Homo sapiens: one gene and its partner. The protein of the gene in region 2 purifies or fractionates together with the protein of the main gene of each other region. This does not show direct contact. Each region holds a gene or a part of one and is shown on either strand. Other genes may lie near its edges.

The links. The genes of interacting proteins can lie anywhere in the genome.
Region 1: the proteins of ANKRD35 (region 2) and KRT7 purify together in Homo sapiens (affinity purification with mass spectrometry, with the first as the bait; one large-scale study listed by BioGRID). This does not show direct contact.

Annotation. Positions count from the first base shown.
Region 1 is NC_000012.12:52,245,087-52,250,276, reverse strand, and holds the end of KRT7 (keratin, type II cytoskeletal 7), read right to left. Parts: exon of another isoform or gene 4,866-5,190; coding exon 4,645-4,865; exon of another isoform or gene 3,809-4,644; intron 3,101-3,808; exon of another isoform or gene 2,829-3,100; intron 2,101-2,828; coding exon 2,066-2,100; intron 1,687-2,065; coding exon 1,517-1,686; 3' UTR 1,356-1,516; downstream 1-1,355.
Region 2 is NC_000001.11:145,865,041-145,869,943, forward strand, and holds the end of ANKRD35 (ankyrin repeat domain-containing protein 35), read right to left. Parts: intron 3,361-4,903; coding exon 3,271-3,360; intron 3,017-3,270; coding exon 2,951-3,016; intron 2,353-2,950; coding exon 2,290-2,352; 3' UTR 2,247-2,289; intron 1,726-2,246; 3' UTR 1,524-1,725; downstream 1-1,523.

The sequences.
Region 1 (5,190 bases), on a different chromosome or scaffold from region 2:
GGGCTCCTAGCCCGCAGCTCTCCCAACCCCCGAATCTAAAGGACTGTCCTCGCAGCCCTAGGTAAAGACCCCGGTCCGGAGGCCTGGATGCCTGTGGCTTCTGAGGGACAGATGGGCCTGGAGCCCCTTGGTGTGGACTTGCTGTGCCTTCTAATCCAATGTCTTCTAATACACGTGCAGGACAGGCCACCTCTCCTGCCTGGCTGCCTGGCTCCCTCCCTCTCCCCTGTGCTTGTCTCAGCATTTCCAGTAAAGCTCCTGATCATATGCATTGTGCCCTGAGAGTCTCTCCTTCCTCTTGCCCACTTGGTCTTCTTAGTCGGGAGGGAGAGGGCCTGGATCTCCTGACACCTTGGGTGGGAACCCCATCACTGTGGCTGCTGGTCCACTTTTTCCACTCTCCACCCCAGCCCCCACCTCAGCATTTGAAAGTTCCCTGACCATAGGGTCAAATATACAGACTTCCTCCCAGAAGCCAACACATCCCACATAGCTCCCCCATCCACACCACCACCATCACCCCTGGGGTCCCAGACACAGAGACCTCCCTGTGGCTCCACAGTACCCATCATATGTGCTGCTGCCCATCAGGGACACATTTCCCCATGCATAGGCCCTGCCACAGAACACCTGCCACACTCACAGACACACAGACCTGTGTGTCGGGGACTCTGACATAGAAGCCCCCATCAAGCACTGACTTAACACAGATGTCCTTCCCCACTCCCATGGATCCAGATACAAACCCATCCCTCCACTAAGGTCCTAGGCACAGACCTGTTACCGGGGATCTAGACTCTAGGACCCTCCTCCCATGCACACACACACCTCCCCCCCACAACCACTACCTCCACAGAATTCAAGATGCAGAGGACCTCTCCAGGGCCCCAGGCCTGGCTGACCATGAGCCTGGCAGACCCAGCACCAGGAAGGGCTGAGGACGGCTGGCATGAAAGTTGGCTGGGCCACCCGAAACTGGAAGCTGGGGCAGCTGAACGTCTGTGGCCTCCTCACAAAAGGAATGTGCTCTGGCAGCTCTGGGCATGGGGGGAGGGAGGCAAACAGCCTTTCCACCCCCTTAGCAGGGCAGCCCTCCAAGGCCCAATTGCTGGCAGAGCCTGCATTTCCCCGTGGCTCTTCTGGGCTTCCTCAGGAGAATCTTTGGGATCAGCCCCAGACCTGGAGGCCAAGGCTCACCCTAGGTAAGCGTCCTGCTCCTTAGAGCAGCACCCCATCCCACCATGTGCCTTCTCAGTCTCCTGCACAAAAGGCTTCCTAGTCACCAGGGAGACCCTGCCTTCTCTAGTCCCGTCTTTTCCCCTGCCCAGCCTCATGAAGCCAGGATACCAGGCACGTGGATCACTCAGGCCTCAGAATGAGGCTGCTTTATTGGAAGCTATTCTGACATCACTTTCCAGACTGTCTCACTGTCTTGGGACCAGGCATGGGAGGCAGGGGTGGGAATCTTCTTGTGATTGTGGGTGGTGGCTGGAGGAGTGGAGTGGTGGGAGGCGGCTCAGTCGCGGGCACTCCTGCGACTGGCGGATGCGGTCCGGATGGAATAAGCCTTCAGGAGCCCAGGACCCGCACTGCTGGAGAAGCTCAGGGCATTGCTGCCCATGGTTCCCCCGAGGGTCAGCCCAATGCCACCGCCACTGCTACTGCCACCAGTGGAATTCATCACAGCTGGGAGAGAAAAGAGGAGGGCTCTCTTCAGCGTGAGGCTCCCTACCAGGGACCCCATCCCTTCACTGCACCCCACCCTCCTGCCCCAGCTGCCCCTCTCCCTCACCCCTGCCCCCCTCCATGGGCCAACCCAGAAGGAGCATCTGACAGGGGTAGGGCTGCTCCCCAGGTGCTCCTGGCCCCACCCTGCCCTCTTGTAGTGCTTCCCAGGCCATTGAGCCTGGCAGTATGTGCTCCAGGGGACCTGTCAATCCCTGTAGAAAGGAAGGAGTCTCCTGGCCCCTCCAGCAGGGCCCTGGGCCAGTCTGCCATTCTCTAGACCCAGCCCCATCTAAACAGCACAAGGGATGCTTCCCATGGGCCGCAGCCAAGGACTTACAGATATTCACGGCTCCCACTCCATCTCCAGCCAACCTGGGGGCAGAGGACAGACAGTGAGGACGGCTCTTTCCTAGCGTGGGAGGGAAGCGCTCTCAGCCCTCTCTCCTTCCAGGCCCCAAGCAGGATCATTGATTTTTCCTTCTTGCCCCACACTTCCAGCCTGCCTTCAGCCTTGTAAAAGGAGCGAGGAGGCATGCAGGAAGGGAGTGTTCACCTTGGCCCTTCTATCCACTGGCCACCTGACCCCAGGCAATGTCTCAGGGCCTCCATTTCCCACCTATGCCTTGGGCCCAACTACAGGACCAAATTCATGGGCCTGTGAGGGTTAAATGACATAATCTGTCTAAAGCCCTGAGCACCTGGGATTCGGTGAATGGTAGCTGTATGTGTTATTTATGTAGATGGCTGCCTTTCCTCACCGTATCATAAAATCCTAAAGGTGTCTGTGGCCTATTGATACTTTTATCCCCAGTATGAGGCCTGGAGAAGTCATTGCTTAATATATGTCAAAATAATTCGTGAATCGTTGACTGATTGAATGGGGCTCCAGCCAGGACTAAGGAAGGAGCAGGGAGTGGGGGTGGCTTTAAGCAGCCAGTGGGGCTGAAACAGGTCTTGCAGTAGAAATTAAAAATCCATTCGGGACAGCTGGCTATGTTTGTTTTGTGACTCACAGTCCCATTGTCACCAAGGCCTTGGCCTTGGGGATCAGTTTGCTCTGTGGGGGCAGGGAAGACCTCGCTTTGGTGGAGGGAATGAAGGGAGCCTCGCTGGCCTCTGCGGCCCCAAGCCCAGGAAGCAGGCAGAGCAAAGGCTGAGGGAAAGAGAGAGGTTTGCTGAAAGCTTCCAGGGGGCTTGCTTAAATGGCCCCTGCTGGTGCTGGGAGTTGCTGGCACTTGTGGGTGGGGAGAGGGAGCCAGGTTGCAGTCAGGCAGCAACTCGAAGAATTTCTGGTACGATGCCTAAGGAACTCAGACGGAAGAGGCCTGAATGTCCAAGGCTCTAGTGATCTGTGTGACTTTTCTCATTCTAAGTAAGTGGGGTTTTTTTGGTAACTTTGTATTCTTAAAGTAGGCCTCCCAGTTTGAATGAGTTTCTGGACCACAACTCTGATAAGTTAAGAGATAAAAGCAAGGTATCTACCTCCATATCCCCCCAGGGTTGGGGGAACCATATCCTCTCAGAGTACCCGGATCTAAGCCTGGTTACAGCAGCTCAGACTGAGATTAAGCTTTCAGAAGAGGATGTCTCTGCGTGCTGTGTGACCTTGGGCACACTACTGACCATTTCTGAGCTTCAGTCCCCTTTTCTTCCCATGGGAGGAAGCCAGATCAGGTACCACTCTAAGAGTCCCCCAACTCTGACTTCTATGACAACAGAAGGCCCAGGGTATGGGTTGTAGAGAATTTGGGGGCCCTGTGCCTGTGGGAGAGGCGAAAGCAGAGAGAGGCATCTTGGCTGGAGCTCCCTGTGCCCAGATCAGCTTCTGTGTTCCCAGAGACTTTTGGTGTTAATTCTTCTTCCCACAAAGAAGACTGGGTGCTAACCCAGGGAGAAGGCGGGTCAGCAGCAGGGGCAAAGCCCCTTCCTCCTCCTCTCCGCCTCCTACTCATACCCTGCGGCCCTGTGTCTCCTCTTCTCCTCCCAGCACCCAGGCCCTCGGCCCTAGCACCCCTTCACTCCCCATTCCCTTCCCTGCTGCTCCATTCATCCTCCGTCATGTCTCTCTCTGGCCCCTTAGGAATAATACTCAGAAAAGAATAAGTTCTTGTATACACTCAGCATTTTACAAATGTAAGTTACTGGTCTCTGGGGGTTTCCTCTGTGGATGTTTTGTCTCCTCCACCCTCTGCAACCTCCCTGAGGGCAGAAACATGTCCTACGTATTCTCTGTTGCCATGGTGTCTTATAACAAGCCAAGAATGAAGAGGTTGAGTTCGAACCCAACAATATGCCCATGAAGGCCCAGCTGCATAGACAGAGGTGGCATGCGGTTCATGAAGAATGTGCTATCAGACTCCCCCATTCCAGCCTCCTCTCTGACTGCAAGTGAGTCTGCAAATATCTCTGGGGACAAACAAAACGATCCCCCTCCACCACAGTCAGTTAGCCCCACATGATGTAGCACTTAGTTCTGTAGTGAGAAGCAGCCTGGCGTCCTGGAAGATCCTTGGAGCAGGAATCAGCACACCCTGACTGCACTCTGGCCCTATTCCCTCAATTAATGAAACTCAACCACAGCTTTCCCCTCTGGAGACTAAGGAATCAATCGTCTCTGACCTGACTACCTGAATGTGTGCTGAGGATCAAATATGATAACCCTAAGAAGCCGCACACACAAAGGGACTGTTATCATTTCAACCTGCCCACTGAGCTTCACACTCCATGGTCTTTCCTTCTAGAAGGTCATCTCATTGAAGGCAAAGAGGCAAGCATCAGCTCTGTGTTCCCTGCATCCCCACACCCAGTGCCCTGCAGAGGAGGGGCATACAGGAAATGCTTGTAAATGGATGAATGTCAAGCCCCAAACCCCACGGAGCCCTAGAAGCATCCCCTTTCCAGGTTCCTTGTCCTCACCGGCTCTCCTCGCCCTCCAGCAGCTTGCGGTAGGTGGCGATCTCGATGTCCAGGGCCAGCTTCACGCTCATGAGTTCCTGGTACTCACGCAGCTGCCGTGCCATATCCTGCTTGCCCCGCTGCAGGGCGGCTTCCAGCTCCTCCTGCTTGGCACGAGCATCCTTGAGCGCCAGCTCCCCACGCTCCTCAGCCTCGGCAATGGCGGCCTCCAACTTGGCACGCTGTGGGCAGCAGTGCAGCTGTAAGCTGGGGCTCACCAGTCTGCCTTCCTGCCTGCCCATCCTGCAGTGAGCACCCGGGCAACTTGCTTAAGGTGGCTTCATTGGCACCACCTACTCCCCCAAGTACCAGAGAATCCTAAGGGTTAAACACATAGGTTTGGATATCCAACGCCTATGTTCCAGTTCTGGCTCTGCCACTTACTAGCTGTGTGACCATGGATGAATCAACCCTGCTAAGCCAAAGTCCCCTCTTTTCTAAGAGAACATCAGGAGATTTTGAGGATGAAATGAGATAATATACAAGATGTCCGTGGCACAATGTCTA
Region 2 (4,903 bases):
AATCCTAGCACTTTGGGAGGCAGAGGTGGGTGGATCACCTGAGGTCAGGAGTTCAAGACTGCTTGGCCAACATGGTGAAACCCCGTCTCTACTAAAAATAGAAAAAAATTAGCTGGATGTGGTGTCATGCACTTGTAATCCCAGCTACTCGGGAGGCTGAAGCAGGAGAATCGCATGAACCCAGGAGGCGGCGGTTGCAGTGAGCTGAGACTGCCCTACTGCACTCCAGCCTGAGTGATAGAGTGAGACTCTGCTAAAAAAAAAAAAAAAAAAAAAAAGTGCCAAAGCTTGGAAACAATCAAGATGTCCTTCAGTAGGTGAATGGATAAATAAATTGTGACACATTCAGACAATGGAATATTATTCGGTACTAAAAATAAGTGAGTTATCAAGCCATGGAAAGACATGGAGGAAATTTAAATGTATATTACTAACTCAAAGAAACCAGTCTGAAAAGGATACATACTGTATAATTCCAACTAAGCACAACTGGGGATGGGAGAAAGATCAGTGGTTGCCAGGGGTTAGCAGGGATGGGGAGATGAGCAGACAGAGCAAAGAGGATTCTTAGGGCAGCGAAACCACTGTGTATGATAATATAGAGATGGCCAGGCACAGTGGCTCATGCCTGTAATCCCCAGCACTTTGGGGAGCTGGGACAGGTGGATCGCTTGAGCCCAGGAGTTTGAGACCAGCCTGGGCAACATGGCAAAACTTGGTCTCTATTAAATATACAGAAAAATCAGCCAGTTGTGGTGGTGCTCGCCTGTAGCCCCAGCTACTTGGGAGGCTGAGTTGGAGGATTACTGGAGCCCAGGAAGTTGAGGCTGCAGTGAGTTATGATCATGCCACTGCACTCCAGCCTGGGCAGCAGAGTAAGACCCTGCCTCAAAACAAACAAACAAACAAACAAAAACAAAAAAAAGATAACATAATGATGGATATATGTCAATATAAATGTGTCCAAACCAACAGACTCTCTAACACCAAGAGTGAACCCTAATGTATACTATGAACTCTGAATGATAATAATGTGTCAATGTAGGTTCATCAATTATAACAAATAAACCACTCTGGTGAGGATATTGATAATTGGGGAGGCAGTGCCTGCATGGGGGCAGAGAATATATGAAAATCTCTGTACCTTCTGCTTAATTTTGTTGTGAACCTAAAACTGCTTTAAAAATAAAGTCTATTTGCAAAATAAAAAACAAAATCTACTTGTATCCCTGGGCATGGTGGCACATGCCTGTAATCCCAGCTACTTGGGAGGCTGAGGCACAAGAATCACTTGAGCCCAGGAGGCAGAGGTTGCAGTGAGCTGAGATCATGCCACTGCACTCCAGCCTGGGCGACAGAGCAAGACTCTGCCTCAAAAAAAAAATCTACTTGTAAAAAAATGTTTTTAAAAATAAAGACATACTGTTAATATTTGTTTCCAGAAAAAAAGAAAAGAATAAAGGGATGAAAGATATTCCTTTCCCCACTCCCCTTTAGAAAAAAAAAAATTACACTCAGCCCCGTCCTGCCTCATGCTTTATTTTCCATAGAGCTTGTTTCCATCCATACCTCCTCTGGTCTCATCCATGCTGATTCCAGGGTCCAGGTTCTCAGGTCTGAGGTCCATAATGTCAGGTGAAGCCCTGCCCATACCATTGCCTAGTGGCCAACACCCCCGCCCACCACAGCCTGATGAAGCCTCTGTCAACCAGGGTTTCTTATTCCCTGAAAGAAGAAATTCAAAGATGAAATGCACCCACTTCCATATCCTCAGTCTCCTCCCACTCATATCAACATGCTAAAAGGGACCCTCATCTATCTGGACTGGAGAAGGGGACTATCTGCATTGGGGTGGGGGGAGGTTTGGGGGATGACTGCTCTTTGAATGAATGGTATCAAAGTGAAGAGATTCTGGATTTTGTAGAGTCCTGCCCTAAGGAACAACTGTCTACCACTATCCTACCATCACTCATCTTTCACTGGCATCTCCCTACCCCAGACCCAACCCCTCTTTTCAGTCTCCATCTCATAAGTCAGCCCCCTTAGTCCACCTGCTCACTGATTCCTGACTCCACCCAGTGATTCTCCATGTTCTGTCTTCTCAGTCACCTCAAATGCTCTATGCCCCAAAAGGCTCCCCATTGTCAGCCACCACGGGGGCAAAAGGGACTAATTTCATTCCATACACCTTTCCCAAGCCCTTTCTCCCAAACTCCTTCCCTCATCACCCTTAACCCACAACTCACAACAGAGAATCTCGTATCCCTGAGGGCACACAGTGAGGCTGCCTCACTCCTCTTCCATGCTAAGGATTTGCAGCAGGATATTGTACACTTCATGTTCCATGTAACCCTGTAGATGTCAGGAAAGGAAGAAAAGGAGATGAAGAACAGAAAATGGAGAGAGAGAGGTGAGGGAGAGGTTCTGTGGTACAGTGGAAGGCTATTTATTTACTATATACCTTCACTTATAGTATTTAACTTCTCCATGGCTTTTTCCCTATCTTCACAGGGAAGATAATGATGTCTACTTTTCAGGATTGCTCTGAGGATTACAACCATGAATATGAAGCAAAGCACCAGGTACACAATAGGTGTTCATTCCATTCTTTGTAGTTATTATTCCTAACAAGGGAGCAAGACACCTACCTCTTCTTCCTTGTTTAGGACTAAGTGGCTCCAGGAGGAGACTGAGAAAGGGTATTGGGGACAGGAAAAGTCCTTACTATAGGCCAGAGAATTGAAACAGAGGGGGAAACACCTCTCCTTCTCACATTCATGCACAACCTCTCTTGATCTACCAAATGAGATCAGAGACCTAGCACTGGATCCAGCTTTCCGAGAAACAGCAAGTGTGTACAGGGACCCTGGAGAAGAGAGAGGGACCCTAAATGCAATACCCTATACTCAGCTTTATGTCTATACCTCCCTCAAAACTCCACCATGCTCACCCGAGCAGCATTCAGTAGATGATTCCTGTAGGTGGAGATGATCTCTTCATGGTTCTTCTGGGAATCCTGGGAATGAACATCAATGGGAAGTCACATGTCCACCCTCAGTCACCCAAGCATGAGGAGCAACACAATGAAGTGGTCAGCAGTACCAGGTGGGCTCGTTGGCCCATCACTGGCCCATCCTGGACCACTGCCTAGCCAGGCCTCTGTAATTCCTAGAATGTCTCCCTCAGTAATTCCTAGAATGTCTCCCACATATACATCACTTCCACTGCTGACCTTCTTCTCCAGCACCATCCCTGACAGCCAAAACATACCTGCAGCTGCAGGGCAAGGCGAGCATTTTCTCCCCGAATTGCTAGAACCTCTTCTGAAAGCTGCTCCAGCTTCTTCAACAACTCCTTGATCTGAGGCCAAGAGGAAAGAGGCAACCAATGAGGCTCCAAGTCATTTCTCCCACAAGGGTCAAGGTCAGCTTCCTTTTACTGAGTATTTAATATGTGCCAATTTTATACAAATTGTCTCATTTAACACTCAAAACAGCTTTTCTTCTGTGTGGTGTTCACTAAAAGTAGGAATAACAACGTAAAAGCTAATTAAGGTCACAAACTTCGGTGAAACCCTTAAAAGTCCAAATCTTTTTGATATTGTGAACTATACCCCTTCCAGTTTAGTTTCTTCTGGACTTTCCTTACTTGTCAGTTACCTTTTAAAATTTGCACACATTATGATTAAAAGTGGGCCTCTACTGTGATGATTCCTATTTCCTCTCATGTTTTAAAGTGCAAACTAACATTTAAGTGAACATTAGCATCAAGTAGTGCAGACATTTGTATGCATTTCCTTGATTCAATTTGTGACCTTACCAGTTCTGAATTGGAATTGCCCCATTTCGTAGATAAAGGAAACTAACTATATTGCTGCACTTTTAAGTTTTCAAAACAGTGTTTAAAAATTGCATTGTTTTTATTTTTTTAAAACTCAGTTTAAAAAGACTAAAATGTTCTTTCAAAAGAGGCATCTAAATGTGTTCCTAATTTTGTATATGGGCTTAGGTTTTGTAACCAATTAAAAAAAAAGCTGCTATCCAATATGATAAAACATTGAAAACTTAAAAAAATTTAAAAAAAAAACAGCTTTTCTTCCGGGAGGAACAATACTTCTCTGAAGGAAGTTTGTTTTTTTGTTTTTTTTTGTTTGTTTGTTTTTTAGACTGAGTCTTGCTCTGTCACCCAGGCTAGAGTGCAGTGACACCATCTGCTCACTGCAACATCTGCCTCCAGGTTCAAGTGATTCTCCTGCCTCAGCCTCCCAAGAAGCTGGGATTACAGGCATGCGCCACCACACTCAGATAATTTTTGTATTTTTAGTAGAGGCGGGGTTTCACTACGTTGGCCAGGCTGGTCTCGAACTCCTGACCTCAGGTGATCCGCCCACCTCAGCCTCCTAAAGTGCTGGGATTACAGGTGTGAGCCACTGCGCCCAGCCTGTTTTGTGTTTGGAGGCAGGGTCTCACCTGCCACCCAGGCTGGAGTGCAGTGATGTGATCTCAGCTCACTGCAACCTCTAAATCCTGGGCTCAAGCCAACCTCAGCCTCCTGAGTAGCACAGGAACAGGCACATGCCACCATACTCAGCTAATTTTTGTATTTTTTTGTAGAGTTGGGGTTTTGCCATGTTGTCCAGGCTGGTCTCAAACTCGTGGGCTCAGGCGATCCATCCACCTTGGCCTCCCAAAGTGCTGGGATTACAGGCATGAGCCACTGTGCTCCGCCTGAGGGAAGTATTATAATCTACGTTTTGTAGATAAAGAGACTAAATTAAGTAATTTGTCAAAATCACACAGCTAATAAGTGATGAAATCATGATTTGAACCACAATCTCTTTGACTCCTTGGCCGATGCTCTTAACTTGGTATCAGATCCTAACCTACTCCTGGCTACTGACCAC